6 separate regions of the Homo sapiens genome follow, and regions 2, 3, 4, 5 and 6 are each reported to be linked to region 1. The links are microRNA targets in miRTarBase. Many come from high-throughput screens and were not tested one by one. Region 1 holds a microRNA gene; each other region holds the end of a gene's coding sequence.
The links. Region 1 holds the annotated microRNA hsa-miR-4695-5p (CAGGAGGCAGUGGGCGAGCAGG, at 2,009-2,030, shown strand). A microRNA usually pairs through its seed, bases 2 to 8, with sites in the 3' UTR of a target mRNA and lowers its output. Matches are read on the target gene's strand: a 7mer-m8 pairs with bases 2 to 8, a 7mer-A1 pairs with bases 2 to 7 and ends in A, and an 8mer does both.

Region 2: miRTarBase lists OR2A4 as a target of hsa-miR-4695-5p. The part of its 3' UTR that is shown has no 7-base or 8-base seed match.
Region 3: the mRNA of GNS is a reported target of hsa-miR-4695-5p. Seed matches in the 3' UTR shown: 7mer-m8 at 1,788-1,794, 7mer-m8 at 1,820-1,826 and 7mer-m8 at 2,863-2,869.
Region 4: the mRNA of BTRC is a reported target of hsa-miR-4695-5p. Seed matches in the 3' UTR shown: 7mer-m8 at 3,429-3,435.
Region 5: miRTarBase lists NELL2 as a target of hsa-miR-4695-5p. The part of its 3' UTR that is shown has no 7-base or 8-base seed match.
Region 6: the mRNA of JUND is a reported target of hsa-miR-4695-5p. Seed matches in the 3' UTR shown: 7mer-m8 at 1,666-1,672.

The regions. Positions count from the first base shown.
Region 1 is chr1:18,880,208-18,885,279 of GRCh38, reverse strand. It overlaps MIR4695 (microRNA 4695), which reads left to right and starts at 2,005; the gene lies at 2,005-2,078. It overlaps ALDH4A1 (aldehyde dehydrogenase 4 family member A1), which reads left to right. Exons shown (of 15, transcript NM_003748.4): 6 at 1,852-2,001; 7 at 2,082-2,156; 8 at 3,393-3,580. RefSeq lists a silencer at 920-1,151.
Region 2 is chr6:131,695,726-131,700,797 of GRCh38, reverse strand. It overlaps OR2A4 (olfactory receptor family 2 subfamily A member 4), which reads left to right. Exons shown (of 1, transcript NM_030908.2): 1 at 1-1,154. The coding sequence ends at 329. The region is part of intron 15 of ENPP3 (ectonucleotide pyrophosphatase/phosphodiesterase 3); the gene reads right to left. Among named protein-coding and RNA genes, the nearest start is that of OR2A4, 3.1 kb to the left of the region's middle. RefSeq lists an enhancer at 1-297.
Region 3 is chr12:64,712,165-64,717,236 of GRCh38, reverse strand. GNS (glucosamine (N-acetyl)-6-sulfatase) reads left to right here. Exons shown (of 14, transcript NM_002076.4): 14 at 418-3,788. The coding sequence ends at 496. Among named protein-coding and RNA genes, the nearest start is that of GNS, 45 kb to the left of the region's middle.
Region 4 is chr10:101,550,311-101,555,382 of GRCh38, forward strand. It overlaps BTRC (beta-transducin repeat containing E3 ubiquitin protein ligase), which reads left to right. Exons shown (of 15, transcript NM_033637.4): 14 at 389-581; 15 at 2,845-5,072. The coding sequence ends at 550. Among named protein-coding and RNA genes, the nearest start is that of POLL, 35 kb to the right of the region's middle.
Region 5 is chr12:44,504,663-44,509,734 of GRCh38, reverse strand. NELL2 (neural EGFL like 2) reads left to right here. Exons shown (of 20, transcript NM_001145108.2): 20 at 751-1,457. The coding sequence ends at 801. Among named protein-coding and RNA genes, the nearest start is that of NELL2, 370 kb to the left of the region's middle.
Region 6 is chr19:18,276,341-18,281,412 of GRCh38, reverse strand. JUND (JunD proto-oncogene, AP-1 transcription factor subunit) reads left to right here. Exons shown (of 1, transcript NM_005354.6): 1 at 1-1,719. The coding sequence ends at 972. Among named protein-coding and RNA genes, the nearest start is that of JUND, 2.7 kb to the left of the region's middle. RefSeq lists silencers at 1-312, 893-1,202, 1,633-1,832 and enhancers at 1-657, 1,883-2,092, 2,433-2,512.

The DNA of each region.
Region 1 (5,072 bases):
AGAGCCCATGTGTCCTGCCTCGGAAATGTCCCCTCTCCTCCATCCCTCTGTCCTCGCTCCTAGGCCTTTGTCATGCTTTGCCTGGACTGGTGGTGGCCTGCACTGTCTCCCTGCCTCCTAGCTTGGTCAGCCCCTCGCCGCCCTCAGAGTGGTCTTTCCAACACCTCCAGGATGTTACTCCTGGCTTATGACCCACCCAGACCTCTCCACCACTGAGAGGCAAGTCCCAAGACCTGAGCCCCATACCCAGGGCCCTTCTGCCCACCTCTGTCCAGCTCGCCCACTGCTCTGCATTTCCCTGCCAAGCTGTCCTGCCCATAGTGTAGCCATTTGGCACTTAGCAGGACTCCCCGGCCATGGCAGGCATCCTCTCTGCCTCTGCCCACGTGTCCTCCTGCCTGGAATGCCTGCTGTCTCTTCCGTGCTCAGTGAACTCTTACCTCCTGGTCCAGCCCAGATGTCACCCCCTCCGTGAGACTTCCTGAGCCTTCTCCAGCCGAAAGGACTATTCCTGCCTCTGTTTCCCCAGAGCATGTTGTTCCTGCATCAGTTACAGCTCAGATTGCACTGGAGTGTATTGAGTTCCTAGGTACTGCCCCTTTACAAGCTTTTTGGACATAGTAAACATGTCTTGACATTCTCGGTCTTTTTCTGGGCTTTGCATGATACCTTTCAGGAGGCATAGCAAGCCCCTGATCAATGGTTTTCTCTGCACAGAGCTGGCATGACAGCTCCTCACCCTGCTAAATGCAAGTTGAGTGAGGAGTGGCTCTAGCAGGCAGAGTGTGCGGGGGACAGGAGTCGAGGGAGAAAGGGTTATTTCACCACCTCCAGGACCTGAGCCCTACGCTGCCAACTAACCTGGGTTCCTGAAGGGTAAATTGCAGGAGCCAGAACCCAGGCTGCTTTCTGGATCAGGCATTTGCCACTGCCTGCTCCTCGGTCCCCATGGTGAGCGCCCCCTCTGCTGCACAGAGCTGGTATGACAGCCCCTCAGCCTGCTAAATGCCTTCTTAGATTGGCTCAGCAGCCCTCTGGGGTGGGCGTCAGCTCTGCGTGTTCCTGGTGAGCCGCACGTTGCTGGGAAGACAGTCTAGGATCAGTTTAGGCTTTCTCTGTATTTGGCCTAAGACTCAGGAACTTCTAGGAAGCAAGGTACACATCTTAGCTCAGCTTCATGGGCTGTGTGTCTCTAATAGGTCGTGCACCTGCCAGTGACCTTGGGTGCCAAGAGGAGGCCACGTCAATCTGGAAAAGCCCCGTTCTTGGCTGTCCACAGTTCTTTTCCCTGCAGCTCACATTTGCTGTTATTAAGAATTGACGGTTTAAGGGAATCACAGTCACTCGCCTCTTGGTTTTTGGCCCAAACTAACCAGCAAGGCCGAACATCATTCCTGGGGAAGGAGCCATCCACCTCCCACACACCGAGTCTCTCTCCTGGTTTTCCAGTGACCAATCTCCAGCTCATGCTAATCTGCCCTTCTGTCTGGAAGGCTCTGATCCTGAATTTAGTCTGAGGCTTGACCATAGATCCTTTGCCATGCACCACCATTCAGAGTTGCTATGAAATGAAGACAGTGCATGGCAAGTACCTGGCCTGCTACAGAGGATCACTAAAATTCTTCTGATCCCCGTCCAGCCCAGAGGGCCGGCTACAGGAGGTGCTAGCTCAGGGGCTTGAGAATCCTTTCCCCCTCAGCCCCTGGGATGGGACCTGGTGAGCCCTCCAAATGTTTCCTGGTCCCTCCTGGGGCCCGGCTCAGTGCTCGCTTTGGGCACAGCGTCAGATGTGAGAAGAGGATGGACAGGAGGCTGTTGGCTGCTCCTGACCCCCGGCCCTCTGCCTTGCAGGGTAAGACCGTGATCCAAGCGGAGATTGACGCTGCAGCGGAACTCATCGACTTCTTCCGGTTCAATGCCAAGTATGCGGTGGAGCTGGAGGGGCAGCAGCCCATCAGCGTGCCCCCGAGCACCAACAGCACGGTGTACCGGGGTCTGGAGGTACCTGCAGGAGGCAGTGGGCGAGCAGGCGGGGCAGCCCAATGCCATGGGCCTGATCTCACCGCTGCCTCCTTCCCCAGGGCTTCGTGGCGGCCATCTCGCCCTTTAACTTCACTGCAATCGGCGGCAACCTGGCGGGGGCACCGGCCCTGATGGTGAGATGTGGGCACAGGTGGGACAGCGGCAGCTGGTTGTCCTCCTGGTCCCAACAGACAGACAGAGGCCACCCTGAGCCCCTTGGGTCTCAGCCTAGTCATGGGGAGAGGCACAGAAGGTGGAGGCAGCTTGGGGCTGTGGGTAGGCTTTGGGACCAGAGACCCAGTTTGAATCCCAGCGTCGTGCCTCTCTGCCTGGGAGACCCTGGCAATCCCTGAACTTCTCTGAGGCACAGTTTCCTCATCTGCAAAGTGGAAATAATAGGAAAGCCTCCATGACTGGGTTGTGAGGCTCAAATGAGACACATCCAGCAGCAGGCAGGGCTGGCCCGGAGCTGGCTGAGTGTTGGTGGCTCTGTTGATGATCATTACCGCTGACCTTCAGTGCTCACCACGTGCCTGCTGCTGTCAAGCACGGCATGGAGATGATCTCATTTCATCCTCTCAGCAGCTTCGAGAGGGAGTTGTGACTCTGCCTCTTTGCCAGATGACAAAACTGAGACACACAGCCGTGACTTACTTGGCAAGACTGAGTGACTAGTAAATAAATGATGGAGCAGAGAAAGATTTGGATGTAGTCTCTCTCGGGGTTGATGGTATTCAAGTCACTCCTCTGCCATTATCGGAGTGAGGTTGGCTATTACTGGATGAAGTCCCAGGCCTGTGGGGGAGGTGCAGCCCAGCTCCCAGACAGCCTGGGTGGGAGAGGTCCACATAGTTGTCGGGAACCCCGAGCCCCAGACAGGGGCACTGGATGCTGATGCCGGAGTGTGTACTAGGGACATGGATGGGGACGTCCTCATGCATCTGTGCACAGACAAACACGGTGCATGGCCAGGCGCCCACGTGCCTGGCTGCTGCACATGCCTGACCCAGGACATGTGCTGAGAGAGCCCGTGTGTACTTGCCCCGCCGCGCCCGGTGAGCACTCAGTGACTCTAGCAGTAAGAACAGACCTGCCTAGGTGATGGCAGGACCGGTTGGTGCAGGCTTCTGGGGAAAGGGAGCCTTGGCCAGAGCGTGGGGCAGATTGGGCTGTGCCGTGGCCTCCTTGGCAGGGACTTTTGGAGATAGGGCCAGACGCCTTGGAGGAGTGGGGTCGGGTAGGGGATGTCCTGGTTGGCACAGAGTCTGGTGGTTCCAGGTGAGGGACAACCATGCTGTAGGGTAGGGTGGGGTGGGGGTTGGGGGCTGGTGGCGCCATCCTCATGCATCACTGAAACACCTCCCGGGCAGGGCAACGTGGTCCTATGGAAGCCCAGTGACACTGCCATGCTGGCCAGCTATGCTGTCTACCGCATCCTTCGGGAGGCTGGCCTGCCCCCCAACATCATCCAGTTTGTGCCAGCTGATGGGCCCCTATTTGGGGACACTGTCACCAGCTCAGAGCACCTCTGTGGCATCAACTTCACAGGCAGTGTGCCGTAAGTCCCTGGGGATGGTGTAGGCTGTGGTGGCTAGGGGACGTTCACCTGCTCACCTGCTGTCTGCCTGGGGATGGGGCTGTGAACCCAGGGGTCATGCACGGACTCTACTCCCTTACTTGCTGTGTGGCTATGAGTGAGCCACTTCACCTCTCTGAGCTTCCATTTCTTCACCTGTACAGGGAGTGATTATCCTTAATTTGCAGAGTCATTGCAAGGATTAAACATGTTAATGAACAGGAAAGAGCTTCGCAGACTGGAAGTGCACCCTACAGCTGTGGGTAATATTGATTTCAGTGCTACCTCTGCTACTGGAAAGGGCACAGGGGAGCACAGAATGAACTGGAGGAGTCAGGAAGCCTTCCTGGAGGAGGTGACATCTAAGCAGAGGAGTTGGCCAGGCAGAGGGGAAGAGGCAGGAGAAGAATATATATGTTGGGAGAGGGAATAGCACATACAATGTTGCCAAGCCAAAAACTTGTGCTCTGGGGCATGGCAGGATCCTGTGTGGCTGGAGTGTGGAGTTTGGGGGCGACAGGGCAAGAGAGTGAGGGCAGGGCATGGTTTGAGTTGAGGTAGGGGAGGCAGGCCACTACCTGATCTCGACCATCCATGCACTCACTGGCTGAGCAGGAAATTTGGAGCTCACACTAAGGCTCAGTGGTGAGCACACACCAGGGACAAGGTCCCGGCTCTCAGGCTGGAGGTGGCGGCAGGGAGTGGTTCAGTGACCATAAGATACTTAGGAGTCTGCAAAGGTGTCTGGCCTTTATCCTGAAGGTGATGGGAGCCATGGAAGGCTTCAAGCAGGGAGAGTGGCTGAGTCAGAGTTCTGTGTCAGGCAGAGATTGCAAATAATGGCCCCCAAATTGGATCTGGCAAGAGGCTCTACTTTCTTTGACTCCTAACAGTGATGGCCCAACTTTGTATAATTGGGACAATTTCATAGATAAATCCAAATATTGGCCTGTCTTGGTCCCCTGGACCTGGATGCTCTGATCTTGCATTTCCTGGTGGTACCACTGGCTGGAAGTGGGTGGGTGCCCTCTGGCTCCCTGCATACCTGATCCACGCTGTTTCCTTTCCCTGCTGGCTCCTCTGGGCCCCTGTGTTGGCACCCTCATTCTCAGTGATCTCTCTGTGACCTGATGCAGGAGACTGGCCAGGGACTGTTGACCTCCAGGGAGGGGTGGTAGGGGCTTGAACCAGGGGAGAGATGGGGGATGTGGAGAAGGGGGCAGGTTCAGGTGAGAAGGATGCAGGGAGGCACAGTGGCCATTGCCTGTCCTGGAGTTGGGGTTGGGGTGCGTGTGGGGATGAGGGGGGTTGTCAGCGAGAATGTTCAAGATGGGCACCTGGGAGGGCGAGCGGGCTCGGGGGAAGATGAATCTCCTGTTGGTCACTTCGGGTGTTATCTGGGTGGAGATGCCTGGAGGCAGCCAGACGCCCGGGTCTGCAGCTCAGGGTCCTTCTTACCTCCTCTTCCAGGCCC
Region 2 (5,072 bases), not on the chromosome of region 1:
CAATTTCTGGGCTGGTGGGACCCTTGTCCACAATTGTAGTTTCATATATGTGCATCCTCTGTGCTATCCTTCAGATCCAATCAAGGGAAGTTCAGAGGAAAGCCTTCCGCACCTGCTTCTCCCACCTCTGTGTGATTGGACTCGTTTATGGCACAGCCATTATCATGTATGTTGGACCCAGATATGGGAACCCCAAGGAGCAGAAGAAATATCTCCTGCTGTTTCACAGCCTCTTTAATCCCATGCTCAATCCCCTTATCTGTAGTCTTAGGAACTCAGAAGTGAAGAATACTTTGAAGAGAGTGCTGGGAGTAGAAAGGGCTTTATGAAAAGGATTATGGCATTGTGACTGACAGTGACCTAGGAAGTTACATCATTGAGCGGTTCTTAACCCATCTCTGCACTGGTGGGACCTCTGCCCTCAATGGACATGAGAATTATCTGAGACATTTATTTAAAATGGAGCTATCTCCTGCCCTACCTTTAAATGACTGATTTCAGCAGATGTGGGATGAAATTCTAGAAATTGATCTCTTCAAGTTGTGCTGCAGCCACTCCACACCAGGACAATACCCCTTACAATATCCTCATTAGCTTTTGATCCAGTCCCATACCTCCCATAATGTTTTCCTCAAAACACTGGTCCCTTCAGAGGACTTTAAAAATAAGTTCTATAGTCAAATAAGTTTGAGACTTACTTCACATCAGATGCCTCTGTCTAGGGATCACAATTCATATTAGCATAGTGAATGCTGTAAATATTTCTCTAGGAAAGAATAATTCTATACCAGCTTTAAGCCAGTGTTTTCTAAACTTATGTGAGCACATAAAATTTCCTTTGTAATACTTAGTAACAGTTTCCTGGAACAGGAGATCTTGATATTAATTGACTCATTGTGAATACTTCCTACAGCCCCCTTCTAGGGCAGAATGATTTCTTTTTTCCTTGCAAAGTGAGCCTCTAAAGAGATGTAGTTCTGAGCATTATGCCTCGATCAGTCTGTAAAAATCCGGGTTCTGTTTGGATACAGACCGTGAGGGACCCTGTCTCTACTGTTCAATGGTAGATCATCTAAAGAAAATAAATGCAATCCTGTCCTTCATCATGGATCGGCATTCCTGCTATAGAAGCTTCAGGAGATGACCTCATTCAACCTCACAATCTTCTAAATTTGAGATTTTTAAGAAATATGATTCAGTATACATCTTCCTGTGTTTGCCGCTGAATGAAATCAATCTAATTTTTCTAATTCAGGGTTTTCAAGATAAACCCAGATTTCTCAAGAAAGAAAAATCTAGAAAGATTTCAAAATCCACCACCTACACACTTAAAAGTTGTAGCAGCTTCTTATGCCATGGGAAACATGTCATTTTGAGATGATGTTTTTTCTAGGTTTAAGTTTGGTCTTAAACATTTATATTTAATTTCTCATTGTCTTAGTTCAAAGAATTTACTTTTATATTTTAAAATAACTTTTTACACAATAACTCAGTGTCATATCATGTTAGATATAAAACTATGTCCTAAAACTATTTTATCCTTTTTTTTTTTTTTTTTTTTTGAGACAGTCTTGCTCTATAGCCCAGGCTGGAGTGCAGTGGTGCAATCTCGGCTCACCGCAACCTCTGCCTCCTGGGTTGAAACAATTCTCCTGCCTCAGCCTCCTAAGTAGCTGGGACTACAGGCATGTGCCACCACGCATAGCTAATTTTCAGTAGAGACAGGGTTTGTATTTTTAGTAGAGACAGGGTTTCACCGTGTTGGCCAGGCTGGTCTCAAACTCCTGACCTCAGTTGATTCACCTGCCTCGGCCTCCCAAAGTGCTAGGATTACAGGCATGAGCCATCCTGCCCAGCCTATTTTATACTGCTTATACTATTTATATAGTATAAAAATAGTTTTAAAACTATTTTATGGTATACTTTTTATAAAGTAAAAAGTATACTGTAGTATAATTTTTATACTATATACCATATTATATTTTTATAAAGTTGTTTCCATTTGCTACTAACTTTTTCTTTTGTATGTCAGTTTCCTGATTTCTACATTTCCTGCAGGTCACCTGGAACATCAAAAGAAAAAGAAAAGCTGTAATATTGATGGGTGGCCTACTGTGCAACAAGATTTTCATATAGTGTTTTTGGTGTTATATGGATGTTTCTTCTCGCAGTGGATGTGTAGAGTCAGAGCACAGATGGGCATACTCTCAAACCTTAATAACTGTGCCACATTGCCCTTTGAGTTTATTCTAAACCTTAGCAAGTCAGAGATCACACTGTATGGAACTAACTTCTATCTAAATTGCATGATTGATTGATAGGAGATTTCCAAATAACATTTGGACTGCCTTACATCCAGTAAAAGAACTCAGCAAAATACAAATAAATATGATAATATCTTAGACAGCAAATCTTCTCATCCCACAAGAGGCAGGAAACTGCTAGAGGAAGCTGCCTTGGAGAGGATTCTTTCCTCCCCTCCCGAAAGGAGCTGAACTCAAAATCTCTCCATTTCACAATAGACATTGGAGAACATTTTCAACAGTGGATTTGCACCGGTGTTTTGTGTCCTAGAAAAACGTTCCCTTCAGGTAGGTTCTAATAAGCCCCTTGAACAATTTCCCAAATTGATCATCCTGCCTTCAGAACTTCTGAATCTTCCCTTCAAAACACATACACACGCACACACACACACCCACACACATACCCCTAATCTTATTTAACACTGCTGGAAATAAAAATCTATGTTCTAATGAGAACAAACATCAGACAGAATATGATAAAAGCAAGACTATCCTAGAAACTGTGGCTTCTAAGTTAACCATAATACCTTCCCGGTGATGCACTATATAGTTTCACCATCCCCATGGCTTCATGGGCTCCCTTGGGGCTGAATGGGTCACTACATACCTTTCTAACAGGCTTCCCTGTTTCACACTAGACTAGGGGTCCCCAACCCCTGGGCCATGGACCCACACCTGTCTGTGGCCTGTTAGGAACCAGGCCACACAACAGGAGGTGAGTGGTGGGTCAGTAAGCATTACCACCTGAGCTCCGCCTCCTGTCAGATCAGCAGTGGCATTAGATTCTCATAGGAGGGTGAATCCTATTGTGAACTGCCCATGCAAGGAATATAAGTTGTATGCTCCTTACGAAAATCTAACGCCTGATGACCAATCACTGTCTCCCATCGCCCCCAGATAGGACCATCTAGTTGCAGGAAAACAAGCTCAGGGCTCCCACTGATTCTACAGTATAACGAGTTGTATAATTATTTCATTATCTATTACAGTGTAATAATAACTGAAATAAAGTGCACAATAAACGTCATGCGCTTGAATCATTCTGAAACCACCCCCCCTTCCCGCCCCCACCCTGGAAAAACTGTCTTCTATGAAACCGGTCCCTGGTGCCAAAAGGGTTGGGGACCACTGCGCTAGACCATCCTCGTCCATGTAGCATCTTGAAGGACCTCTCCAAAAGCAAATATCCCTATATTCACCTCAAGCCACCTGTATCTACCAACAGCCTACTTTCTTCAAGATCAAAGTCACACTCCTTAGTCATTTCAGACAAGGTCCTTTGTACACATGATGGCTTCATACACTCAGTGCTCCAGCAATGCAGAACTACTTGCAACTGCAGGAATCTAGTTCTTCCATCTGGAAACCTGCCTCCTTCTCTTTACCCTTCCTTGCCCTAGAGCTACTGCTGGCTTTAAAAAGGTGCTCAGGCCGGCACGGTGGCTCACGCCTGTAATCCCGGCACTGGGAGACCAAGGAGGGCGGATCATGAGGTCAGGAGATTGAGACCATCCTGGCTAACATGGTGAAACCTCGTCTCTACTAGAAATACAAAAAATTAGCTGGGTGTGGTGGTGGGTGCCTGTAGTCCCAGCTACTCAGGAGGCTGAGGCAGGAGAATGGCATGAACCTGGGAGGCGGAGCTTGCAATGAGCCGAGATCGCGCCACTGCACTCCAGCCTGGGCGACAGAGCGAGACTCCATTTCAAAAAAAAAAAAAAAAAAGGTGCTCTGGGTAGATCATTGAGAGAAAAAAAGGTGCCTTTGAAGGACGCGGCCTGGCAGTGTTCAAGGCTTGGCAAGCAGATGGCACTTTTGGCAAAAACAACAACAACAACAACCACAAAAAACGAATCCCCTTCCTCCTGCCAATGCAGCCCCTGTTAAGGCTTGGTGAGCTGAGCAAAGATTCCATTTCCACTCCCACTCACCTTGTTGGCAGGATGCCACTGTACAACCGACAGACTGCACAGGGCAGACCTGCTGTATGGCAACACGTATCCTATCCCATCATAAGTCTTCCAAACCCCGATCAGCAACCACCCCTACCAGGAAGCATTCTCTGATGCTCCTTGACATTCACACCTGGGTCTGTAATTTTTGCTTCCTTGAGCCTTGTACGTGGTTCTAGTGCAATAGTTATCCCATCTGATTATAGCTGTTATCTTCCTACCTGGGCAAAGATCCTTTGGTCAGGTACTTTGTTGGTTATCTCTAGTTCTTAAAAAGGTGCCTGAAATTTATTTGTCAGTTGCTGATCCAAAATTAAAAGCTAACATTCATGTTCTTTTAAAAAAGCACTTAATACTTCTACTATATCAAAACATCAGGTTTCCCCAAATTAGTAAGATCTAACACATTTTAGGTAAAATAAAGATGATGATGATGAAAATGGATTATACAAACTGTTGAAATTTGCTTTAATTGTACAAAGGGGACCTAACCTAATTATCAAATGATGCACATTATTACTAAAAATGATGTACTTTCACTAGAAAATAAGTAGCTGGAGGCTTGTGTTTTAAGAGTTGGAGAGAGTGAACCCAGGATTTAATCAGATTAGATTCTCTTTTTTTTTTGAGACAGAGTCTTGCTCTGTTGCCCAGGCTGGAGTGCAGTGGTGCGATCTTGGCTCACTGCAACCTCCGCCTCCCAGGTTCAAGCAATTATCTTGCCTCAGCCTCCCGAGTAGCTGGGATTACAGGTACACGCCACCATGCCTGGCCAATTTTTGTATTTTTTTAGTAGAGATGGGGTTTCACCATGTTG
Region 3 (5,072 bases), not on the chromosome of region 1:
TATGGCTTCTCTTTGGCATTTCTGAATTGGCAGCACCACTACTCTTGTGGTTTGGAGCCATTGTTAAATAAAATCAGGGTGACTTGAACACAAGCACTGTAATAATGTAACAGTTGATCCACCCCTACTCCCTCAAAAGAAAAAAATCTCAAATCTTGCTGCCTTCTGACACCTTTCAAGACTAACCTACTTGTTTTTCTCCTCTTGACTTGCACTGTGTGACTTTGTGTGTGCTGACTGGTGATAGAAATGTTCGGAACTGTCGAGGGCTCATGTTTTGTACCATAGACTTTCTCACTAGAGTCCCTTCTGGTGATTTGTTTCTTTTACACCCCTTCCTGCTATCCTTTCCACTGAATAATATTCTGAGTGAGAAGCTAGTGAGAGCTAATGTTACATTTGGTTTTTCCTCCCCAGATACAGGTTTGACCCCCGTCTCATGTTCAGCAATCGCGGCAGTGTCAGGACTCGAAGATTTTCCAAACATCTTCTGTAGCGACCTCACACAGCCTCTGCAGATGGATCCCTGCACGCCTCTTTCTGATGAAGTGATTGTAGTAGGTGTCTGTAGCTAGTCTTCAAGACCACACCTGGAAGAGTTTCTGGGCTGGCTTTAAGTCCTGTTTGAAAAAGCAACCCAGTCAGCTGACTTCCTCGTGCAATGTGTTAAACTGTGAACTCTGCCCATGTGTCAGGAGTGGCTGTCTCTGGTCTCTTCCTTTAGCTGACAAGGACACTCCTGAGGTCTTTGTTCTCACTGTATTCTTTTTATCCTGGGGCCACAGTTCTTGATTATTCCTCTTGTGGTTAAAGACTGAATTTGTAAACCCATTCAGATAAATGGCAGTACTTTAGGACACACACAAACACACAGACACACCTTTTGATATGTAAGCTTGACCTAAAGTCAAAGGACCTGTGTAGCATTTCAGATTGAGCACTTCACTATCAAAAATACTAACATCACATGGCTTGAAGAGTAACCATCAGAGCTGAATCATCCAAGTAAGAACAAGTACCATTGTTGATTGATAAGTAGAGATACATTTTTTATGATGTTCATCACAGTGTGGTAAGGTTGCAAATTCAAAACATGTCACCCAAGCTCTGTTCATGTTTTTGTGAATTCTAGGCTGGTGCTGCACTGAAATAGAGCAGTAAGCTTGTGATAAAGGCCAATTCCAGGTAGCTCTTGAAGGTGATAGCCATCTACTTTCCAGTGGCTGCCAACCACAGGGAGTGCCAGTTAACACTGGAAGGATTAAGGCAAGGTCCCTTCTCTTGAGACTCCCCTCTGAGATCTGAAAAATGAAGTGGCTTAGGAACATCAGCAGTGAAGAACTGCCAAGAGTTGGTGAAGGTTGTCTCTTCCGAGGGCCTTCTGAAGACAGGGCTCTTGAACAGACAAGTGGAAGGGCTGTACCAGGGATAAAGGAAAGAAGTGCCTGTCCAGCAGGGAGCTTGAATTTAAGTTCCATGTATGAAGTCATTGGCTCTATCTGCATTTTTCTGTCATTCTCTTCATTTGTTTTAAGGTGGAAAATTTTCTTACAGTTGATGCAAAGTATCAACTACTTTACCCTACCTTCTCCCCTTTTAGATGGGTTCTTCCTGAGTTTTGGAGTCTTGTATGATTATCAGTATTCCCCTGTCAAAATCAAATCTATTCAGGTTTCTTCACTGTTGAGAACACCTAAATGTTTTTATTTTTGAGAAGTGGGGACAGAGTCTCACTATGTCACCCAGGCTGGAGTGCAATGGCATGATCTCAGCTCACTGCAACCTTCGCCTCCTGGGTTCAAGCGATTCTCCTGCCTCCGCCTCCTGAGTAGCTGGGATTATAGGCACGCACCACCACGCCCAGCTAATTTTTTGTATTTTTAGTAGAGACAGAGTTTCACCATGTTGGCCAGGCTGGTCTTGAACTCCTGACCTTGTGATCCACCCACCTCGGCCTCCCAGAGTGCTGGGATTACAGGCATGAGCCACCACGCTTGGCTAAGAACACCTAAATTTTTATGTTTCTTGGCTCAAAAACCAGTTCCATTTCTAATGTTGTCCTCACAAGAAGGCTAATTGGTGGTGAGACAGCAGGGGAGGAGGAAGAGCTGTGGTTTGTAACTTGTTCAACTCAGGCAATAAGCGATTTTAGCTTTATTTAAAGTCTTCTGTCCAGCTTTAAGCACTTTGTAAGACATGGCTGAAAGTAGCTTTTCTATCAGAATTGCAGATAGTCATGTTGGGCTAACAGTCAATTGGATATATTCCTTTACCTCACATGACCCCAGCAACTGTGGTGGTATCTAGAGGTGAAACAGGCAAGTGAAATGGACACCTCTGCTGTGAATGTTTTAGAGAAGGAAATTCAAAAAATGTTGTAACTGAAAGCACTGTTGAATATGGGTATCGGCTTTCTTTTTCACTTTGACTCTTAACATTATCAGTCAACTTCCACATTAATGAAAGTTGACCATAGTTATTTCCAAATAAAAAGAAACCAACTCTTACCAGGTCTTGGACTGTGATGTCATATTATTCAGTTTTATGCTTGTTCCTGAGCAGAACTCATAAGAGTGACATAGTCAGCTGCTGACGGCACCTCAGCCACGCCACTCTTACTCAGTTCAGTGGGTGTGCTTGCGTGGTAGGATGTGGTGCAGCCCTCTCTACGCTCTTCTATTTTTGGTATATTTCCTATCTAACCTTCAAATAGCTTCCAATTCTTTTTTTCTTGGACTGGCTTCATTCTGAATTTGTGCTAAAATAATCTTTCATAAAGAGACCTCAGTTTATAGCGTAACAGACTACACAATGCACTGATGTTTTCATAATGTTTAAGGGACCCACTGCAAGAAGCTTGCTGCCTCCTTTTAATTGTATTCATTTAGATTTTGATTTTCCATGTTAAGAAGGTGAGGTCCATGTTGGTGCCCTTCAGAGTAGAGAACCATGTAAACATTAGGAATGAACAGAGGCCTTAGGAATGAATAGAGAGTTTGCCTTATACAATTTCCTGTTACAAAGCTCTCCCTCTCATGCAAAGTAGGGAACACCTTTTGAGCATCTTTGAATTTGACAAATGGTGCTGTTGCAAACACTTTTTTTTTGAGATGAAGTCTCGCGGTTGTCACCCGGGCTGGAGTGCAGTGGCGTGATCTCGGCTCACTGCAACTTCCACCTCCTGGGTTCCAGCAGTTCTCCTGCCTCAGCCTCCCAAGTAGCTGAGATTACAGGCGCCTGCCACCCCACCTGGCTGATTTTTGTAATTTTAGTAGAGACGGGGTTTCACCATGTTGGCCAGGCTGATTAACTCCTGACCTCAGGTGATCCACCTTTCTCGGCCTCCCAAAGTGCTGGGATTACGGGTGTGAGCCACCGTGCCCGGCCTGCAAACACATTTTAATTGACAACACTAGGGCTGTTGTACAAAATAGTAATGATAGCCATGGAAGTTTTACCTTATTCTGTGAGAAGTGTTCTTAAACTTATTAAGTGTCTAAACTAAGGTTTAGTGCTTTTTTAAAGGAAAGTTGTCCCAGGATTCATCCTAAAGAAAGCAAAAGTTAATTCAACTGATCCACCAATGGAATTAGATGGGTAGAGTTGGGTTCTTGAGTTTTACCACCACTTAGTTCCCACTGAATTTTGTAACTTCCTGTGTTTGCATCCTCTGTTCCTATTCTGCCCTTGCTCTGTGTCATCTCAGTCATTTGACTTAGAAAGTGCCCTTCAAAAGGACCCTGTTCACTGCTGCACTTTTCAATGAATTAAAATTTATTTCTGTTCTAGTGGGAATGTGTCCTTTGTTTTAGTTCACAAGTAGTAATTTTGACAAGATGCTTTCTTCTGATGCAGTTTGTTTTAATCACTCACCTAGTACTGGAAATGGGCTTTCTAGTCAGATCCTATAGTCTCTACCTGTATAGCTCTTACATACATGGCCCCTACTGATAACCCCTGAATGAAGCACCATGTAGAAAATATTTCCTGATAAATCTGTATGTATTTACAGCTTTGGAGAAAAAGTCTTATCTTGGCTGGCTTTCAAACAGACTAGGCTCGCCTTCAAAGGTGCTTTGCCATGTGATCCATTGCTCTAGATGAGGAATGACTTCTTACGGGGTCAACAAACTTCTTATAGGGATAGACGGCCAGTATTTTAGGCTGCCAGGCCATGTGTTCACTGTCACAGCTATTTACCTCTGCTGTTATAACACAAAAGTAGCCATAGAAAATGGATAAGTGTGTGGCTGTGTTCCAATACAATTTTATTTTCAAAAACAAGTAGGTCATAATTTGCCAACCCCAGAGCTTATAGGTTGCCTCATATCTTAGCAATTCTGAAGACCACATAGAAAACAATGCTAGACACTCATAAAATTGCCAGATTACTATCAGAAAAACAGGTGATTTGGGCCAGGGGCAATGGTTCACGCCTTTAATCTCGGCATTTTGAGACCCCAGCAGGAGGATCACTCGAGCTCTGGAGTTGGAAGACCAGCCTGGGCAACATAGCGACATTCTGTCACTATAAAAAATATTTAAATTGTAAAACTGAAAAATAATAGGGGATTTGGATATATCACAATTTTAAGGTCATTTATTAGGGTCTGGGATTTGTACCCTTCTTGCAAGCTAATTAAGTAGGTCTGTTATTTCATGAGACTCCTGGGATAAAGACAAAGGACTGTAGTACAGCACAGCAAGCAGTAAGAGCCTGTCAGTTCACACTTAACACCCAAGTCCTACAGGTATGATGCAAAGGGCCCAGAGGGATGCCTGCACATGCAGTGGGTTTTGTTACAGGAAAAGAACATTAGGCTTGGGGAGGCTTCATCCAGGCTGGAGTGCAGTGGCGCAGTCTTGGCTCACTGCAACCTCCGCCTCCTGAGTTCAAGCAATTCTTGTGCTTCAGCCTCCTGAGTAGCTGGGATTACAGGCACACACCACCACACCTGGCTAATTTTTGTATTTTAGTAAAGACGGGGTTTTGCCATGTTGGCCAGGCTGATCTCAAACTCCTGACCTCAGGTGATCCACCTGCCTCGGCCTCCTAAAGTGCTGGGATTACA
Region 4 (5,072 bases), not on the chromosome of region 1:
GTCTCACTCTGTTGCCCAGGCTGGAGTGCAGTGGAGTGATCTCGGCTCACTGCAACCTCCACCTCCCAGGTTCAAGCAATTCTTCTGCCTCAGCCTCCCAAGTAGCTGGGACTATAGGCACATGCCACCAGCCCGGCTAACTTTTTGTATTTTTATAGAGATGGGGTTTCACTGTGTTAGCCAGGATGGTCTCGATCTCCTGACCTCGTGATCCGCATGCCTCAGGCTCCCAAAGTGCTGGGATTACAGGTGTGAGCCACTGCGCCTGGCCTCTTTATAACAGCAAACCATAGCCTTTCCGTAGACTCCTTTTGACATGTTGCTGAATTTGTGTCCTATTGATTTTGAGTAGTTCAAGTTCCTACCCTTTTTGTTTCTACTTCTTTAGGAGCATTCCGGAAGAGTTTTTCGACTACAGTTTGATGAATTCCAGATTGTCAGTAGTTCACATGATGACACAATCCTCATCTGGGACTTCCTAAATGATCCAGCTGCCCAAGCTGAACCCCCCCGTTCCCCTTCTCGAACATACACCTACATCTCCAGATAAATAACCATACACTGACCTCATACTTGCCCAGGTATCGAAATCGATTATGTACATAACACTGTGGGTAGGAGACGGGATATTAGCTGTAAGGTGTTGCTAGTTCATGGAACTTTCTCCTGCCGTTTGGGTCACCAACTCCTGTAAAGCCGAGGAAGCAGACAATGTGAGACAGGGCTGAAGCTGCCACAGTGTGGACAGTGCCTTTCACCAAGGTAGCCAGCCTCAGTTCTAGATGATTCTAGGGTCCTACTTGTGTGGTAAGCCTAGTCATTCCTGCCCTAGTTATCTAGTAGTACTGTTATGAAAATAAAATGAGATTTGAATCAGTTTGAAAACTAAGTACTGTAATGACCCAAAGGCCTGTGATGTTTAAGTTCCCAGATCAAACAATACCTACAATAGAGACCTTTCAAGCCAAGTAAACAGTCTGATGTCTAATGTGTGAATGGAAACATCTCTTGGTGAAAGTTCACACTGACATATAAATAAAAGGGCAGATTTTAAAAGGAATATAAAAAGTAGCTTTTATATCCCTATCCCTATTCCTCAACCCTCCAAAAAGAGGACCTGTCTTTTGACCTCTGACCTCCACATGTCCTCCCACTCAAGTCTCCAACCTCTCTCTCAGGCAGGGGAAGATCCTAAAATACCCAGGTGGTCCATACATATTGTGGTATATTCAGATCATACCTGCTGTTCTAACCAGTTCGAATACACTAGGTTGTTACCAGTTTGAGAAGGCTGCCCTAGCTGCTGAGGAGCGTTGCTGTCAGGATTTGCCACGTGTGCCTCAGTTCTCGTGGCGGAAGTACATGTTCGCTACACGTTTCTGCATCTCTCTTTGCAGTGTTCCGCTGAGGACAGTGATTCACGCCCAGCTGGGCTGTCCTCAGCTTCTCTTTCTCTCACAGAGGACACGGTTCGTCGTTCCTCAGCCAGGTCGCACAGGCTGTGTGCCCTTAGACAAGTAACTTCCCAGACCCTGAATCTCTTGATGAGTAACGTGAGGGGCAGCACTCACCTCACGGAACCCTGTGAAGGCTGTGTGGAGATACTGCATGGAAAATTCCTAGTGCTTAGCACAGTGGCGAATACATAATATGCCCTCAGGAAAAACTGGTCATGAGTATTAATATTGCAATCTCCATATACCTACCCCCTCCTTTGCCCAAAATTTTCTCTTCCTTAGACTTCCGTGTTACTTTGCCATTTTTAATATTCTTCCTGACTCTCTGATTATTTGTGCTTCTTTCCCCCTCACTCCCAAGAGTCTGTTTCTGGCTTTTCTTATTATTTTTATTTTATTTTATTTTATTTCATTTTATTTTATTTTATTTTATTTCTTGAAACAGGGCTTCACTCCTGTCACCCAAGCTGGAGTGCAGTGGCACAATGTCAGCTCATTGCAACCTCCACCTCCTGGGCTCAAGTGATTCTCCTGCCTCAGCCTCCTGAGTACCGCGGGCACACAACACCATGACCAGCTAATTGTTTGTATTTTTTTTTTTTTTTTGGAGAGATGGAGTTTCACCATGTTGCCCAGGCTGGTCTCGAACTCCTGAGCTCAAGTGATCCACCTCCCTTGGCCTCCCAAAGTTACTGGGATTACAGGTGTGAGCCACCGCACCCGGCCTGTCTCTGGCTTTTCTTCCTTATCTGAGTTCCTTCTTAGGCTGCCTTCTCTATTCCCAAGGCTTCAGATCTCATCTCATTGTAGAAGACTCAAATTTCTGTCTCCAGTCCAAGCCTCTGCCTTAATCTCCAGGCCACATTTCCAGCTGCCATCCACACAGCTGTCCTTGAAGATAGCAAGAGCACTTCTAGTGCTCACATCCTCAACTGCACTGTCCCCTCCTTTACACTGCTGGTACCCTGCAGCCACACAGCCAGGCCAGCTTTCCTTGATTCCCCCACTTCTGTTACTGGCACCGCCATGCTCATGGCCACTCAAAAGGCAGGGCCCACAGACCATCCCCCACCCCTGCCCTGCCATTCTACAGGGCAAGTGAAAGCTATGCCAACCGTGGGCACTCTCAGCCTCAAGACATCAGAGTCACTCTGCTTGAACACCACAGCCCTGAGCATGTCAGCAAGCCCTGCCTTTAGTATAACTTCCCCCATCAGGCCAGGTCACCTTTGACAGAAGCTCCTGCATGGCATAGGCAGAGAGCAGGCATTAGGAAGGACCCCTAAGCCTTTTCCCCATTGGCAGCTAAGTGAATGTTCTTTTGTCTTCAAGCAAGTAAGAAATATCAAAAAAGGGGCTAATGACTATTTGCTCTGTTTTCACACAGGACCCATTAAAGTTGCGGTATTTAACGTATCTGCCAATACCAGGATGAGCAACAACAGTAACAATCAAACTACTGCCCAGTTTCCCTGGACTAGCCGAGGAGCAGGGCTTTGAGACTCCTGTTGGGACACAGTTGGTCTGCAGTCGGCCCAGGACGGTCTACTCAGCACAACTGACTGCTTCAGTGCTGCTATCAGAAGATGTCTTCTATCTTTTGTGAATGATTGGAACTTTTAAACCTCCCCTCCTCTCCTCCTTTCACCTCTGCACCTAGTTTTTTCCCATTGGTTCCAGACAAAGGTGACTTATAAATATATTTAGTGTTTTGCCAGAATCTCTCTTGCTTTGCCATTAAGCAGAAGAACTAGTTTCCCTGTATAGCCTGCTGGGAGAGACCCACTTCTAGGGTATGGGGGATGCAGCTTCAAGCCCAGTGCCCAGTGTCTCCCTGTTAACTGCAGGAATGCCAAGCACCTGGCCAGAGCAGCCCAGCCCCAATATGCTTAGGAGGAGACAGAGTTCCCTCTGTATAGCCTCTGGGACAAGAAAAAGAAAACACAAGAATGTATACACTGGAAGATTTGGGCCTCCTGCCTGCCTTCTCTTTGTTTCTGTTCCTCTTCCCATCTACTCCCCTACGCCCCTTCAACCTTTTTTCTCTGTCTGCTTCACCTGAGAAGAAAGTGTACGAAGAGAGTGTCCTCCTCTCACATGAGCCAGATCAGCCAGAAAATGCAACACTTGGAAGAGTTAAATGCTGTTCAGTGAAGATTTCAGCCCCAGGCCTTTGCTGCAAGTGACCCTGTGGCAACAGTGGATTCTCAGACATGATACTCTCATCATATTTGCAACTCTTCTCTCTCTTTCTTCCCCACACCCAAGAGGAGGATTGGTGGTAGGGGGCAGGCAGAGGGGGTGGGGAGAAGTTTCCTGGGCTCCATCAATGGCTGCATCTTTTCTGGACTCAGCAGTCTCCTTGATTCCATGTAGAGTGTGGAAAGGAGTTGCTGATTGCATTTCCTCTCATTAACAATTGGGTGTGTAATAAAAAGCATTGTACTTCATCTTAAATCACTGGTAAGGCTCAGCCTACAGAAAGATTTGAAATGGCCAGAGCCAATCGCTTGGTGCATTCTGCGTAATGGTTTCCATCTCCGATTTCCTCATCAGGGCCTGTGAATACCCAGGTGCCTGTATCTTTGCCAAGACCGTGATCAAGGTAGCTTAAGAGAGATGGTCAGGAGAAAACACTGTTTTTGTTTTTTTTGTTGTTTTGTTTTGTTTTGGCCAGTTAAATATCATCTCTCAAATATTGATCTCACCGTGTCAACCTTGCACTGCACAACCTTCCTTCTGCTTCTCCCACACCCAGTATTTGCAGAAGGGCAAAGCTGCTTAAGAGAGAGGATCAGGGTGAAGTTTGGCACACAGGGTTTATTAATGGGGCAAAAACTGCCTTTTCTTCCTCCTCCTGACCTTATTTTGCTCTTCACTCTCCCCAGCCAATAAAGCGTCTGTGGCGATTGGTGAACAGCATAAACAGCTGGACCTCAGCAAGGGTCAGGCAAACCCAGTCACTCGGAAGGCAGCTGTGTGAGCTGCCAAGCTAGTGGGCTTCAGGTGCAAGGGTACCTGTGCCACACCAACCTGGGAGCACACAGAATACTATTAATGTGCACCCAGCTGGTCTCCCCAGGCAAGAAGGTATCCTCTTCCCAAGGTGTACCCACTGAATGTTGTTACTACATATTGAGAGTCATTTTATGCATATGCATTCTACCTTTCCTGCTTTATGAGTATTTTTAAGCTTTTAGTTCAAGGTTATATTCAGAAAATATTTCCCAGTATAATGATACATCGTAGCCTAAGAAATATTTTCTCAATGTAATTCCCTTCCCAGCTACCCAAATGCTACAGAGAAATGTTTTCTACTTGGCCACTATCAGGGTTCGTCATCTATTGTGTTGACTATTAATGGCTTTTTGATTGGGTAAGGATTTTGCTATAGATGAAGGTAGAGGGCTGTCAGCCCTGAAAAACACACAGGTCAGACATTTAAAAGGCATGGGTTTCGAGCTGTCTCAAAATATTGCCCAATAGCCATAATTTTACCAGCCTTTCTGTCATATGCTGCTATTACAAAGTGGAAGCTGTTGAATGTTTATTGGTGCCCAGGGTTTTGCTCTCCAATCTAGGTTCAGTTGAAGGAATATTGTTTCTAAGACTGTT
Region 5 (5,072 bases), not on the chromosome of region 1:
GGTGGCTTAAACAACGACAATTCATTCCCCACAATTTTGGAGGCTGAGAAATTCATTTCTCACATTCCAAGATCCAGACCCTGGCAGATCTGGTATCTCCAAGGACACACTTCCTGTTTGCAGATGGCCATTTCTCATTGTATCACATGGTAGATAGAGAGAGAGGACGCATGTGTTCTCATCTTTTTGTAAGGGCACTGATCCCATTCATGAGTGCTCTACCCTCATTCACTAATTACCTCTCAAAGGCTTTACCTCCTAATACCATCACACTGGGGATTAGGATTTCAACATGTGGGTTTTAAGAGGATGCAAACATTTAGTTCATAGCACCTTTCTAGCACTTTTCACAATTTTTGATTATATGTTTGCATGGTACTTACTAGTTTTCTCCCTAGATAAACTGCAAACCCTGCTCTGTGAGGTTAGTGACCATGTCTGCTTTATTTATTAATATACTTAGTGCTTACATAGACTTAGTACATATTTTGCAAATAAATGAAAGAACAAATGTGATACAGAGGATGCCAATGAGTAAATAAAGCCAGTTTATGACTTCCCACAAATACAATGGGCATAATAATTGAGTCTGCAATAGTAGAGTCATGAAAAGTGATTGGGCCATTGAATTTTTAGGAATGCAGAAATAAATTATACAGTTTTGTTTGTAAGTACCAATCAATAAATGTGATCATTTACTAATGGCTTAAAAATTCATACTGTTTTTCTTTCTACTTTTTTTAAATCTAGAATGGCCACATCTGTTGCTCAGTGGATCCACAGTGCCTTCAGGAACTGTGAAGTTAACTGTCTCATGGGAGATTTCTGTTAAAAGAATGTTCTTTCATTAAAAGACCAAAAAGAAGTTAAAACTTAAATTGGGTGATTTGTGGGCAGCTAAATGCAGCTTTGTTAATAGCTGAGTGAACTTTCAATTATGAAATTTGTGGAGCTTGACAAAATCACAAAAGGAAAATTACTGGGGCAAAATTAGACCTCAAGTCTGCCTCTACTGTGTCTCACATCACCATGTAGAAGAATGGGCGTACAGTATATACCGTGACATCCTGAACCCTGGATAGAAAGCCTGAGCCCATTGGATCTGTGAAAGCCTCTAGCTTCACTGGTGCAGAAAATTTTCCTCTAGATCAGAATCTTCAAGAATCAGTTAGGTTCCTCACTGCAAGAAATAAAATGTCAGGCAGTGAATGAATTATATTTTCAGAAGTAAAGCAAAGAAGCTATAACATGTTATGTACAGTACACTCTGAAAAGAAATCTGAAACAAGTTATTGTAATGATAAAAATAATGCACAGGCATGGTTACTTAATATTTTCTAACAGGAAAAGTCATCCCTATTTCCTTGTTTTACTGCACTTAATATTATTTGGTTGAATTTGTTCAGTATAAGCTCGTTCTTGTGCAAAATTAAATAAATATTTCTCTTACCTTATAACACATGTGAGTCTGAGTATCTTGTTTAATATGTTCCTCTTTTCCACAGATGATTCTATAAAAATTGCATTCTAGTTCTGCTGATGATAAACTCCTGCTATGTTATTTCTAAATTGAAAGTTGCTATTTCCAAATTTCCAAATTGAAAATGATATGCCTAAGTAAGGGATGTGATGGATAACTTAGTTCTTCCTCTCTAGATCCTCAATTTCACCCTTTCTACCCTGCTGTGCATCCTGGGGTGGCTGACCTATACAGACCCTAATAGTGGGTTCCTTTTCCTCTTGATTCTTGTCTGGTTTCAATTATACTGCAGCAGGAAACACAGCTGGCATATTAGGAAGAGGTCAAGTTTGGATATTTATTCCGCTGGCTCCCTTCCTGCCTGGCCACCGCCATGATTTGGTGTGTCACCTTACTGAAGGTTATATCTCTTGAAAGGTACTCCTCTCTGTCTCACTGCCTCACCAGGTTCTGATAACTTCTACTGTTTGCATCTTCTGGCTTAGGGATATTAACAGCTCTGGCTATTCTGTCCTTGGGAGGTAACTGTTCAATCTTGTTTTCTCTATTTCTAGGCATATCTTTATAAATGGTCCCTTTGTTATACTCTTTAATTAGCCAGCTTGAGTGTGCCATCTGTTTCCTGCCAGGATTCTAACTGATACACATAAGGAGAGCAGTATGTGAGGTTGAGAATGTCTTCAAGAATTGGTCCTTCACGTTTTGATATAAAATTTTTAAAAATATCAATGTTAAAAGATATTATGATATTAATTACATGTTAAATATTTTGATGCACCAGAATGTCAGAGGGGATAAAAGTAAACATCCTGAAACTCAATAAAGGAAGCCAATCCAATATTGCCCTGTTATGTTTTACACTAGGGTGAAAAGGAAATATAAGTATTGTCAAATTAATTTTCGATGCATAGAGGCATTTTTTAAAAAAAAATTAAAATGAACACAAGGTGACCACCGCAAGCTACAGAAATGATAAAGTGGCTTTTAACTGTTCACTCACTATTGCTATGGAAACAACCTAGCACGAGCTGAGTTGAAAGATAATTCAAAAATGTCTTCATAGTTTGGCATGGTAATATTTATTGAATGTGTAAAATCAAGTAGCTATATTCCCTGAATTTATCATAAATGATTTTTCTGTAGCCTTTTTATGTTTAATTTAATTTAATTCAACAGAGCATAAGGTTTATTTTTTGTCAGCTGTATTACAATGGTAAATAGCAATTTAGCTTCCAAGAAGATATCTGTTAATTTGAAGTTTTTTCAAGTTATTTTTTCCTTATATAGCTTTGTGATTTCATATTGAATCCTCCTGAAAAAGTATACTTTACTCATTTTTATAAGAGAGTAAGAAATGTGTGTAGGAAAGTGTGTGTGTGTGTGTGTGTGTGTGTGTATACACCCATATAGATACATATTTGTCATTTAGATATGTCCTTCTGGAAGGAGAAGCAAGGCTGGAATTTTATATTACAAATCCTTTGGAAATCTTTGTAGGGCTCTGGGCATATTGGTGGCTTGCAGATCCTTGGTTTCTATAGGCCGCTGAGTGAAAGAAAACTCATAGTTAAGAAGAAAAGAAGGAAAATACAAGACTATGATAATTCAACGACTATTAAAGCAACACATGAATTCAGATTGAATTTTTTTTTCTTCAAGGTTTACTCCACAAATAGTAGATTCCCCAGGAGAATTACTGTTTCATGTGCAGGCCCTGGGCAAGCAGTAATCAATTGTTTCTTAAGAACTTTGTTCCTTGAAAAAGGGAAGGTTAATACCCCATTTCTCACTCTGATGATAATTGGCAGAATGCCATGGCTGAGTTGTGCCAATATTAAGGGAAAGTGAGAGCTAAGAAGCATGAATTTATTTTGAGGGTGCTTAGCTCCTTTAAGGGCAGGCCTTGGTGAAAATAGTCTTTACTCCATTTTCTTTATTTCCCCTTTTCTGCAAAAAAAAAAAAAAAAAAAAAAAAAAGAATATTTCGCTATGATTCTTTGGTTTAGTAACCTGTATAGTTTATCTCCCTTTTTAAAAGACTGCCATATTGCTTTTTTTGGTTTGCCTTATATAATGGTAAAAAGAGTCATGCATTTGTTCAATTATACTGCAATATCATGGAACCCTTTCATCCTTCCCATAACTTGGTTATCTATAGCCAAAGTTGAAACACCCTGTAAATTGCCTTTACAAAATGAATGGCATATCAAAGCTCTAAAACAGCAGTCAATACTCTTGAGTGTTGGAGTAGCGGAAGTTATTCAGTTGAATAAAACTGAGGTTACATCTACTGAATAAAATATGAGCTTCAGTTCACTAAGCATGACCTCATCTATCAAAGCTCCACATTGCTGACTAGTTAGGACTTCCTCTGAAGGTCGGCACATCCCACAGATACCTGCATGGTCCCAGTCCTGTTGATGTAGGTAGCTTAAGGATTGACAATACCAACTGTTCTTAAAGAAAGACTTTTTATTTTCCATTTTTTCAAATGTAGAGTGTTGTAGCTCAACAGTAAATTGATCTCTTGAGAGAGTCATGCCAAAAGCATCCCTGAAGACAGTAAGTGGATGCTGTGCTCTGTACCCACTTTGTTCACTGTGGTACCTGGACACTCCCTGTCTGCAGTCACCATTGCAGTGGAGTTGGCTCCTTGTGGTCTTACTGACATTTCATTACTGCACAGTTTTCTACCCTAGAATTCAACATTTTCCATAAAGGAGTTGTCACCTCTTTGCAGAATAATTGCCCTTACTTAATAGACCTGCAGGTAGAAAGTCAGGAATTCCTTGGGCTACAGTAGCTCCGGATTGGTGGTGACATAAGTAGGCAAGGAATAGAACTATTGGAGAAGTTTGGAACAGGATAATCTGAGTTGCAGTTTCTTATATTCTCTCTACTTGCCAGGCTGGGACAACTCCCCCATATCTTTTGTCTTTGTATTTGTATTAAATAATTGTTCACAGAGATTGTTTGCATGACAGAGTCTGAAATTTTTATTTATTCCAAATGATGGATGGCACGCTATGTTACTGCCACCACCAATATATTGCATTTAAAACATGACCTCTTATTTATCTCCAATGTTAGGTGTTTTAGAAAAGCAGCCTGAAATAAGAGTATAATTCTATGTAAAAGCAGAAATGATAGTGAGTTTATTTTTGAGGCTTTTTCTCTTTCTTTCACAAAACCACAGCCATAGAGAAAGAAAAGAAAAATAATGAACAAAGTATGTGCAAAGCATAAGCATTCATTTATTGCTGACTCATAAAGTACATGTCCTAATGGAGGAGAAAGAAAATCAACAAATAAATAGATACCATTTCAGGTGGTGATAAGAGCTAGAAGAAAAGTTAAGCTGGCTTGGGATACTGTTGTGGAGAGGGGTGATCATTTAGGTTGGTTGGACAGGAAGTCCTCTCCACAACAAAATAGTATTGGGGCAAATACTTGGATGAGGTGACAGCATGAGCCATTTTCATACCTGGAGCCATTTTCATACCTGGAGGGAAGGAGTTACAAGCAGAGGGAACAGTGTGCACAGGTCTGAGGTGGAAGCACACCTACATGTCTTGAGTGGAATGAGAACGTG
Region 6 (5,072 bases), not on the chromosome of region 1:
TTCGCGTCCCCGGGCCGCTTGTTCCCCGGGGCGCCCCCGACGGCCGCGGCCGGCAGCATGATGAAGAAGGACGCGCTGACGCTGAGCCTGAGTGAGCAGGTGGCGGCAGCGCTCAAGCCTGCGGCCGCGCCGCCTCCTACCCCCCTGCGCGCCGACGGCGCCCCCAGCGCGGCACCCCCCGACGGCCTGCTCGCCTCTCCCGACCTGGGGCTGCTGAAGCTGGCCTCCCCCGAGCTCGAGCGCCTCATCATCCAGTCCAACGGGCTGGTCACCACCACGCCGACGAGCTCACAGTTCCTCTACCCCAAGGTGGCGGCCAGCGAGGAGCAGGAGTTCGCCGAGGGCTTCGTCAAGGCCCTGGAGGATTTACACAAGCAGAACCAGCTCGGCGCGGGCGCGGCCGCTGCCGCCGCCGCCGCCGCCGCCGGGGGGCCCTCGGGCACGGCCACGGGCTCCGCGCCCCCCGGCGAGCTGGCCCCGGCGGCGGCCGCGCCCGAAGCGCCTGTCTACGCGAACCTGAGCAGCTACGCGGGCGGCGCCGGGGGCGCGGGGGGCGCCGCGACGGTCGCCTTCGCTGCCGAACCTGTGCCCTTCCCGCCGCCGCCACCCCCAGGCGCGTTGGGGCCGCCGCGCCTGGCTGCGCTCAAGGACGAGCCACAGACGGTGCCCGACGTGCCGAGCTTCGGCGAGAGCCCGCCGTTGTCGCCCATCGACATGGACACGCAGGAGCGCATCAAGGCGGAGCGCAAGCGGCTGCGCAACCGCATCGCCGCCTCCAAGTGCCGCAAGCGCAAGCTGGAGCGCATCTCGCGCCTGGAAGAGAAAGTGAAGACCCTCAAGAGTCAGAACACGGAGCTGGCGTCCACGGCGAGCCTGCTGCGCGAGCAGGTGGCGCAGCTCAAGCAGAAAGTCCTCAGCCACGTCAACAGCGGCTGCCAGCTGCTGCCCCAGCACCAGGTGCCCGCGTACTGAGTCCGCGCGCGGGGCGCATGCGCGGCCACCCTCCCCAAGGGGCGGGCTCGCGGGGGGGTGTCGTGGGCGCCCCGGACTTGGAGAGGGTGCGGCCCTGGGGACCCCCCCTCCCCGAGTGTGCCCAGGAACTCAGAGAGGGCGCGGCCCCCGGGGATTCCCCCCCCCCGAGGGTGCCCAGGACTCGACAAGCTGGACCCCCTGCTCCCGGGGGGGCGAGCGCATGACCCCCCCGCCCTCGCGCTGCCTCTTTCCCCCGCGCGGCCGCCCCGTGTTGCACAAACCCGCGCGTCTCGGCTGCCCCTTTGTACACCGCGCCGCGGAAGGGGGCTCCGAGGGGGCGCAGCCTCAAACCCTGCCTTTCCTTTACTTTTACTTTTTTTTTTTTTTCTTTGGAAGAGAGAAGAACAGAGTGTTCGATTCTGCCCTATTTATGTTTCTACTCGGGAACAAACGTTGGTTGTGTGTGTGTGTGTTTTCTTGTGTTGGTTTTTTAAAGAAATGGGAAGAAGAAAAAAAAATTCTCCGCCCCTTTCCTCGATCTCGCTCCCCCCTTCGGTTCTTTCGACCGGTCCCCCCTCCCTTTTTTGTTCTGTTTTGTTTTGTTTTGCTACGAGTCCACATTCCTGTTTGTAATCCTTGGTTCGCCCGGTTTTCTGTTTTCAGTAAAGTCTCGTTACGCCAGCTCGGCTCTCCGCCTCCTTCTTCCCCCGCCGGGGCCTGGCGGGCTGGGCGGGGCCTGGTTCGCTTCCCCCCTACACCCCCGCCTTTCTCTCCTCCCTCTGTCCCTAGCTCCTCCCCTTGTTGGAGGGAGCAGAGAGCGGGTGTCTGAGAGCGGCCCGCACATCTGGCGCGCAGCGAGCGCCCCCTAGACGCGCCTTGGCGCGGGGCCGGCTGATGTCCAGGTTGGGGAGGGGTCTTGGGGTCTTTGATCTGCGTTTGGAACTAGCTAATGCCCCCTTGCCTTTTGGGAAGGAGAGATTTCGAGGTGGAAAGGGCACAGCCCCAGCCCAAAGCAGGAAGGAAGAGACAGAAACTTAGTAAACTTTTTAACCTTTTGGTCCTTGGTTTGCCTGTCCGTATAAAATGGGGAGAACAGTCGAAAAACTTGCCCCATAAAGTTGTGACGATTAAGAGAGTTTATGTTTACAGAGCAGTGCTTGGCTTACAGTGTAAGCTTTTCTCTTTTGGTGGATCGGGGGATGCTGAGGCCCAGGACAAGCTGATGGACCCAGTACCAGGAGGAAGTTGGCACAGGTGGGATCTAACCCAAGAGGTCTGCCTCCAGGACTGGGATTTTCCAAGTATCTCCCTGAAGTTCGCTTCTCCTCCTCCTCCCAACATCCTACTCCCTACTTTGAGGAAATCTAAGGTTCAGAGAGGTTGAGCAACTGGCTTGACATCACACAGCCTTTTAAGGAGACTGTGCAGAGATAGTCTGACCTTGGACTCCCTCACTTTCAGAGCTTTGACCCGAGGCTTCCTGCTTCTCCTGCCTGCTCTGCCCTTTGCTGTTAAGACCCTGCGCTTTGGGCTTCCAACTCATTGGGGACCCTGAGGGATGTGAACATTAGTGGCCGAGGTCACACAGCAAGTAGGGCTGGTGGCCATGTGTACCTAGCCAGCCCTGTTAGGGAGGGCCACTGAATTGTACCCATTTTACAGATGAAGAAACTTGGAGAGAATGGCCACCGTCCCTTGGTCATGGAGAAAGGCCTTGCCACCAACAGCTATGTTGGGGTTCATTTGTTTGAGACAGAGTCTCGCTCTGTCACCCAGACTGGAGTGCAGTGGCGCCATCTAGGCTCACTGCAACCTCTGCCTCCCCGGGCTCAAGTGATTCTCCTGCCTCAGCCTCCAAGTAGCTCAGATTACAGGTGCCCACCATGCTCGGCTACTTTTTTGTATTTGTAGTAGAGACAGGGTTTCACCATGTTGGTCAAGCTGGTCTGGAACTCCTGACCTCAAGTGGTCCACCCGCCTCGGCCTCCCAAAGTGCTGGGATTACAGGCGTGAGCCCCCACGTCCGGCCAGGGTTTGGTTTTTAGCTGTCACGTTGCCTTGTGGGAGGTCATGCAGACGTTTCAGCAGGGCCTGAAGGAACCTGCTGAAGGGAACTGAGGCTGAGGTGGGAGAGCAGGGGTGTCTTGACACACAAGAGACCAAGAACCACATCTCGGGCAGAGTGTCACTGGTTGGGAGACCGGGACCCAGCTTAGGTTCCAGTTGGCATTTGTGAGATCTCAGGCGAGTCCTCCTCCCCCGATGGCCTCTACATCCTGTGCTGTGAGATGCGGGTGTTTGCATCCAGCATAACATCTCTCAGGTCAGAAGTCAGAACTGGGAGGTGCTCAGGGGACGGACAACAGTGACCGCACTCAATGATGGTACCTACTGTGGCCCCCAATTAGTAGAGAAGGGGAAGGGAGGTTTTGAGACTTGCCCAACACCCCTGTTTTTTTTTTTTTTTTTTTTTGAGACAGAGTCTCGCTCTGTCTCCCAGGCTGGAGTGCAGTGGCGCAGTCTCGGCTCACTGCAAGCTTCGCCTCCTGGGTTCATGCCATTCTCCTGCCTCAGCCTCCTGAGTAGCTGGGAATACAGGCGCCCGCCACCACGCCTGGCTAATTTTTTGTACTTTTAGTAGAGATGGGGTTTCACCGTGTTAGCCAGGATGGTCTTGATCCCCTGACCTCATGATCCGCCCGCCTCGGCCTCCCGAAGTGCTGGGATTACAGGCGTGAGCCACCGTGCCCGGCCAACACCCCTGTTAAATGGCAGAGCAGCGATTCAAACCCAGGTCTCTTGCTTGCCTGCCCCCAAGTGGTCTAAGGCGAAAGGACTCTGAGGAGCCCTGCAGAGAGGTGGAGGACGTACTTTGTTTTTCTTTTTTTTTTTTGAGACTGAGTCTTCCTCTTGTCGCCCAGGCTGGAGTGCAATGGCCTGATCTTGGCTTACCGCAACCTCCACCTCCCAGTTTCAATCGATTCTCTTGCCTCAGCCTCTTGATTAGCTGGGATTACAGGTGTCTGCCACCATGCCCAGCTAAATTTTTTTTTTTGAGACGGAGTCTCGTTCTGTCTCCCAGGCTGGAGTGCGGTGGCGCGATCTCAGCTCACTGCAAGCTCTGCCTCCCTGGTTCATGCCATTCTCCTGCCTCAGCCTCCTGAGTAGCTGGGACTGCAGGCGCCCGCCACTATGCCCGGCTAATTTTTTTGTGTTTTTAGTAGAGACGGGGTTTCACCGTGTTAGCCAGGATGGTCTCGATCTCCTGACCTCGTGATCTGCCCGCCTCAGCTTCCCAAAGTTTCTGGGATTACAGGCGTGAGCCACCCTGCCTGGCTAAATTTTTTTTTGTATTTTTAGTAGAGACAGGGTTTCACCATGTTGCCCAGGCTGGTCTCGAACTCCTGACCTCAGGTGATCCACCCACCTTGGCTTCCCAAAGTGCTGGGATTACAGGCGTGAGCCACTGGGCCCCACAAGTTTGTTTTTTTTTTTCTTTACAAGATGAGGTCTCGCTCTTGCCTTGGCCAGAGTGCAGTGGCAAGACCACAGCTCACTGCAGCCTTGACCTCCTAGGCTCAACTGATTGTCCTGCCTCACCTCAGCCTCCCAAGTAGCTGGGACCACAGGTGCACGCCACCATGCCCTACTAATTTTTATTTTTATTTTTTCTTTGAGACGGAGTCTTGCTCTGCCGCCCAGGCTGGAGTGCAGTGGCGCCATCTCGGCTCATTGCAAGCTCCGCCTCCCAGGTTCACGCCATTCTCCTGCCTCAGCCTCCTGAGTAGCTGGGACTACAGGCGCCTGCCACCATGCCTGGCTAATTTTTTTGTGTTTTTAATAGAGATGGGCTTTCACCGTGTTAGCCAGGTTGATCTCGATCACCTGACCTCATGATCCGCCAGCCTTGGCCTCCCAAAGTGCTGGGATTACAGGCGTGAGCCACCACGCCCAGCCGCCCTACTAATTTTTAAATAATTTTTTTGTAGAGATGGGATCTATGTTGCCCAGGCTGGTTTTGAACTCCTGTGTTCAAGTGATCCTCCAACCTCGGTCTCCCAAAATGCTGGGACTACAGGTATTGAGCCACTGTACTCGGC